Linked DNA regions of Homo sapiens. The protein of the gene in region 1 interacts with the protein of each later gene in a biochemical or structural test. Each region holds a gene or a part of one and is shown on either strand. Other genes may lie near its edges.

Region 1 (3,500 bases):
ACCCTCCGCCTTCCAGGTTCAAGCGATTCTCCTGCCTCAGCCTCCCCAGCAGCTGGGATTACATGCATATGCCACTACGCCCGGCTAATTTTGAATTTTTAGTAGAGACGGGGTTTCTCCATGTTGGTCAGGCTGGTCTTGAACTCCCGACCTCAGGTGATCCGTCCGCCTGGGCCTCCCAAAGTGCTGGGATTACAGGCATGTGCCACCTTGCCCCACCTCACTTGTCCCCTTTTTGTGTAGTGTTCTTCATCCGGTTAGAATATCTTCCTCCCTCACTTCATATTCCTTGTTTTTTCACTTTATTGTACACTTACCACTTCTTGAAAAGCTCTGTATCTTACTTTTTAAATTGTGTTGTTTCCTGGTCTAGAATATAAGTTCTACGGGAGCAGGAATTTTTGACTGACTTGTATACTCCTGTCTTTTCAGTGCCTAAAAAAGTGCCTGGCACATAGTTTGTGCTCAATAAATATTTAATAAATATGTGAATGAAATGGGAAAGTATTTCGATGTAGAAAGCATTATCAGTTTTTTATACCAAAGGTATAACCATCTTGAAAGTGGATCTTTTTGTGTTCTCACTCTTACAAATGGCTTGATTATTTAAACATAGTGAAGATCAGTTTCTCTTTGGTGTCTGTAATTTATTTATTTATTTATTTTTGTTTTCTCAAGCCTAGGGAGCTGGTTTGAGCAATCTCAGGGTAAAAGAAAATGATTAGTTCTCAGAACATCAACATTGTATGTATTATCTTGGAAGATGGGTTAAGATCAAATTGAAAAATTACCGGAAAAAAATTAAGATGGCAGTTATGTATAGATTTTCATTTCTTTTTCCTGTGTGGTTTTAATGATAAGTAGTACAGGCTTTTAGGACTGGTACGATTTTTCTATGTCGTAGAACCCTTTTGTAAATACTTTTGGTATTATGGTGTGTGTTTCTAGATATTAACCATAAGAACTTAATTCTGGTTGTTAATTAATTAGACTCTTGAAATATATACTTACAGCTGAAGGGGGTCTTCCCAACTCTTCATTAGATCTTCCTAATCTCATTGGGATATAGCATTAATTCTGAGTGTACCGAGAATGAAATACCATTAAATTGCATTTTCTTACTTTGCAAAAAACCCTCACAGAATGCTAACTCATTACTTCAGAAAATAAATGAGATTTTGAATTACTTGATAAGTTGACTTTAAGCCTTTTCCCCCTTATTGTAGGTCCATATACTTTTGTTCAGCAACATCTTATGATTGGCACAGATCCTCGAACAATTCTTAAAGATTTATTGCCGGAAACAATACCTCCACCTGAGTTGGATGATATGACACTGTGGCAGATTGTTATTAATATCCTTTCAGAACCACCAAAAAGGAAAAAAAGAAAAGATATTAATACAATTGAAGATGCTGTGAAATTACTGCAAGAGTGCAAAAAAATTATAGTTCTAACTGGAGCTGGGGTATGTAAGACTAGTACATGGGGAGGTCGTATATGTATTTTCTTATGCCTTTTCCAAGTAGGAAACATTTTTCTGGTTTAGAAGGATTTATCCTTACATGATAATGGATGTTTGGGAACTGCCAAAAACTGAGTGCAGCAGCAGTTGCTAAATTAGTTCAGATTTTTAAAACCTCTCCAGCCTTAAAAAAATATTTGCTTCTGCTTATTTATAGCACAGTGGGTAAATGGAGTTAAGGCAAGATTTCTACCTACATTATATCATAGCTCCTAAAGGAGATGCAGGGAATTGAAACTCTGCTTTTGTTAAGGGATGTCAGTCTGATGGAGAAATTGGGTATTTGTTAGATCTTTATGAGAAACTGGAAACCTAATTGGTATTCACAAGTGAAAAGCTTAGTGTTGGGAAGAGTAACAGATTCCTACCTTCCCTCCATATTAATTAAGATGATGTGATTGTGGCGACTTGACATTTTCTATTTGATCTACCTTAGGGTTGCAGCTAATTAGTTACCTAAGACTATTGCATAGTGTGTGTTTTATACAGAGTATATTACATGTTAGCAACCAGAGCAACTGCTGTAGTAAAATTTTGTCCTGTTTTCTGCCATTTCGAGTTGCGAAAGGGTGTTACATAATCTTAGATGATCATCAGGAGTATGTTTTGCTCACAGATAACGATGTAGACAAGTTTGTTTAACTTAAATTGACCTTGACTCCAGGTCAAATTGGAGTCAACTCTGGTAAGATGATGAAACAATAACTTCTGAAATCTCTATTTGAAATGTCAGGATTTTTTTGTACGATTAGTGGGCACGTCTCAAAGAAATGAAGAATTGAAATATTATACACCTTTTTTTTTTTTCTTTTTTTTGGATACAGGGTCTTGCTGTGTTGCCCTGGCTGGAGTGCAGTGGTGTCATCATGGCTCACTGCAGTCTCAGCCTCTCCTGGCCTGAGTCTTGCTCTGTTGCCTAGGCTGGAGTGCAGTGGCAGGATCTTGGCTCACTGCAACCTCTGCCTCCTGGGTTCAAGCAATTCTCTTGCCTCAGCCTCCTGAGTAGCTGGGATTACAGGCGCACACCACCACACCTGGCTAATTTTTGTATTTTTAGTAGAGATGGGGTTTCACCATATTGGCCAGGCTGGTCTGAAACTCCTGACCTTGTGATCCGCCTGCCTTGGCCTCCCAAAGTGCCAGGATTACAGGCGTGATCCACCGTGCCTGGCTATACATTGTTTTTTTTAATGAAAATAGAGAATTGTTGTAGTATTGAGGTAATAGAATCCTAACTAAAGGAGCAATTTCTTTGGAATTACTTCTCTGTAATAGAAATTCTTGGCTGGTGGAGTGGCTCATGCATGTAATTCCAGCACTTTGGGAGGCTAAAGTGGGAGGATCACTTGAGCCCTGGAGTTTGAGATCACCCTGAGCAACATAGACCCTGACTCTACAAAAAATTAGCCTGGTGTGCTGGTGCGTACTTGTAGTCCCAGCTGCTAAGGAGGTTGAGGTGGGAGGATTGCTTGAGCCGGAAAGGTTAAGGCCATAATGAGCCATGATGGCACCACTGCACTCCAGCCTGGGCGTCAGAGCGAAACTGTCTAAAAAGAAAAAAAACAAAAAGCCGGGCGCGGTGGCTCACACCTGTAATCCCAGCACTTTGGGAGGCTGAGGCCTGCGGATCACGAGGTTAGGAGATCGAGACCATCTTGGCTAACATGGTGACACCCCGTCTCTACTAAAAATACAAAAAATCAGCCGGTCGCGGTGGCAGGCACCTGCATTCCCAGCTAATCAGTAGGCTAAGGCAGGAGAATGGTGTGAACCCAGGAGGCGGAGCTTACAGTGAGCCGAGATCGCACCACTGCACTCCAGACTGGGCGACAGTGTGAGACTCTGTCTCAAAAAAAAAAAAAACAAAAAAAAAAAGAAAAAATTCTTCCCTACTTAAAATAATTTGTTGAAATGGTTTATTTTCTTCTCAAGTTGCATTTGCTTTAATTTGTTGGCTAAATGCTTAAAAGGCTTA
Region 2 (3,500 bases), on another chromosome or scaffold:
AATGTTTTCCTTCTTTCTGTTTGATCATTTTATTTTTGTCATTTTCTTCCTTCTAACTTTTGTCATTATTCATTTTCTAGCTTCTTGAACTTATAATTCATTTATTTGCAATCTTTATTGTTTAATAATAATAACTTTTTTTTTTTTGAGAATCTCCCTCTGTCACCCAGGCTGGAGTGCAGTGGTAGATCTTGGCTCACTGCAACCTGTGCCTCCTGGGTTCAAGTGATTCTCCTGCCTCAGCCTCCCCAGTAGCTGAGACTACAGGTGCCCACCACCATGCCTGGCTAATTTTTTTTATTTTTAGTAGAGACGGGGTTTCCCCATGTTGACCAGGCTGGTCTCGAACTCCTGGCCTCAAGTGATCCACCCGCCTCAGTCTCCCAAAGTTCTGGGATTACAGGCGTGAGCTACAATGCCCTGCCTAATAATAACTCTTTTAAGGCATAAGTTCTCTGTATATGGTTTTGGCTGTATGCCATAACTTTGATAACTTCATTAGTGTTCTCATAGTCAATCATTTCTCAAATTTCATTTCAGTCTTTTCTTAAAAAGGTTCTCTTGCTTAAGGTCAAGAGTTCGAGATCAGCCTGGGCAACATAGCAAGACCTCATCTTTACAAAAAATAAAAAAAATTAGCCAGGCATGGTCGGTGGTACATGCTTGTAGTCCCAGTTATTTGGGAGGTTGAGGCAGGAGGGTTGCTTGAACCTAAGAATTTGAGCCTGCAGTGAGCTGTGATGGTGCCACTTCACTCCAACCAGAGCATCAGAACCGGACCCTGACTCGAAAAAAAAAAAAAAGAAATTTTTTTCTCTTGAAAAGTTTTAGAGAATAGTGTTTTCTAAAATTTTCAAGTGGTTTTGATGTTTGGTTTCTTGTTCTGTCACCCAGGCTGGAATGTGATGGTGCGATTTCATACTTGTTAATTTCTGCACTATGGCCAGTTTATACAGTTTGTATGAGTTCTACATCTAAGACTATATTGAGATTTTCTTAGCGGCCTAGGATATTCCTTGGACTCACATATTCCTAGCAATAATCCTTAGAGTTGAAAAGTTGTATTTGTTGTACACACATATATATACATACACAAATATATGTATATAATATATATGTGTATATATGCATATATCTATATGTATATATCCATATATATGTAAGTTCTAGTGCTTGTGTGTGTGTGTGTATCTCCACGCTATTGAAACTTTCTACCTTTCTTTCTTTTCTTTTTTTTTTTTTTTTTTTGATGGAGTCTTGCTCTGTCATCCAGGTTGGAGTGCAGTGGCATGATCTCGGCTCACTGCAACCTCCTCCTCCCGGGTTCAAGTGTTTCTCCTGCCTCAGCCTCCTGAGTAGCTGGGATTACAGGCGTGTGCCACCATGCCCGGCTAAGTTTTTTTTTTTTTTTTGTATTTTTAGTAGAGAAGGGGTTTCATTATGTTGGCCAGGATGGTCTTGATCTCCTGACCTTGTGATCCACCCGCCTCAGCCTCCCAAAGTGCTGGGATTACAGGCGTGAGCCAACATGTCTGGCCGAAACTTTCTACCTTTCCTTCCATTCTGTTTCACCAGTTCTCTAAATGATAATTACAGAGTGGTAACTTCCCCATCAAAACATATATATAGGCCAGATGTGGTGGCTTCCACCTGTAATCCCAACACTTTGGGAGGCCAAGGCCGGTGGATATTTTGAGCCCAGGAGTTTGAGGCCAGCCTGGGCAATATGGTGAAACCCCGTCTCTACAAAAAAATACAAAATTAGCTGGACATGGTGGCACATGCCTCTCGTCCCAGCTATTCGGGAGGTGGAGGTATTCCTCAGAGAGGATCACCTGAGCCTGTCCGTTCAAGGATGCAGTGAGCCATGATCACGCCACTGCACTCCAGCCTGGGTGACACAATGAGACTCTGTCTTAAAAAAAGAAAAAAAGTGGGCCAGGCGCAGTGGCTCACGCTTGTAATCCCAGCACTTTGGGAGGCTGAGGCAGGCGGATCATGAGGTCAGGAGTTCAATACCAGCCTCACCAACATGGTGAAACCTCGTCTCTATTAAAAATACAAAAATTAGCCGGGCGTGGTGGCGGGCGCCTGTAATCCCAGCTACTCGGGAGGCTGAGGTAGGAGAATTGCTTGAAACTGGAAGGCGGAGGTTGCAGTGAGCTGAGATTGTGCCACTGCACTCCAGCCTGGGCAACAAGAGTGAAACTCCATCTCAGAAAAAAAAAGTGTATACACACACCAACACACACATACATGCACACTCTAGAACCTATCTCATCTATCACCACAAAGAGTAGAATATAACTATTCTTCCAGAGAAAATAAAACATTTAGCACACTTTTATAGTTTTTCTTCTTCCCTCTTCCTTCTCACTTTCAGATTTAGTTGAAATAATGTGAACTTTTAGTTCCAGATTACTACCAAATTGTTAATTTTTTTTTCTTTTGTAAACATCCTTTCTGAACAGGTATTAAGCTTCATGGTCATATTACAACGCACTTGTTAGCCATACCTTATACTTTAATTGGTTTCATTGCTCATGATAAGTTTTCCTATAGCTTTTCTTCTCCTTTCTTGAATTATTTAAGGTGATTAATTTTCCATTTGGCAGGAATACTCCATCAAGTAATTAAAAAAATTATTCCAGAGTTTACTTTCTGAGACCTTAAGTGTCTTTACTTGTATGTCCTTCTTTTGCTGTCACATGTGAGGGAAAGTTGAGCTAGGTGTAAAATTCTGAGGTCATAATCACAGTGCTTTCACCTCAGAATATATAAACCTTGCTTCATAAATTTCTAGTCTCTGGTGTTGTAGATGAGAAGTCCACTAATGGTCTATTTTTTCTCTGTGAGTAATCTGTTTTTGTTTGTTAAGGATCTTTATTTATTTTTATTTATTTTACTTTTTAGAGATGGGGTCTCACTCTGTCACCCAGGTTGGAATGCAGTGGTGCAATCAGAGTTCACTGCAGCCTCAAACTCCTGGGCTCAAGCAATCCTCCCACCTTGACCTCCCAAGTAGCCAGGACTACAGGCACCTGCCACCGTGCCTGGCTAATAAATATAGTTGGATGGTTTTCATTTGTTTATTTGTTTGTTTAGAGATAAGTTCTTGCTCTGTTGCCCAGGCTGGTGTGCAGTGGTGTGATCATAGCTCACTGTAACCTCGAACTCCTAGACTCAAGAGGTCTGCTAGCCTTAGTCTCTGAGTAGCTAGGACTATAGGTGCCTGCCACCATGCCTGGCTAATTTTTAAAATTTTATGTAGAGATAGGGTCTCACTATATTGCCCAGGCTGGTCTAAACTCCTGGCTTCAAGTGATCCTCCTGCCTTAGCCGCCCAAAGCACTGGGATTACAGGCTTGAGCCCATGCCCAGCCTGCTAAAGATCTTTATATAATTTTTTCTTTTTTCAATAATCTTCTATCGCCATTGTTGATCTGAAAAACTCAAGTCTTTCTTCAGCTCTTCATCTCAGGGAAATTGTATTCTGCTTT

Evidence for each region. The genes of interacting proteins can lie anywhere in the genome.
Region 2: the proteins of SIRT1 (region 1) and PML form a complex in vitro, tested with the Homo sapiens proteins (one study listed by BioGRID).

What each region holds. Positions count from the first base shown.
Region 1 is NC_000010.11:67,887,656-67,891,155, forward strand, and holds part of SIRT1 (NAD-dependent protein deacetylase sirtuin-1), read left to right. Parts: intron 1-1,226; coding exon 1,227-1,468; intron 1,469-3,500. UniProt on the Homo sapiens protein: NAD-dependent protein deacetylase that links transcriptional regulation directly to intracellular energetics and participates in the coordination of several separated cellular functions such as cell cycle, response to DNA damage, metabolism, apoptosis and autophagy.
Region 2 is NC_000015.10:74,001,216-74,004,715, forward strand, and holds part of PML (protein PML), read left to right. Parts: intron 1-3,500.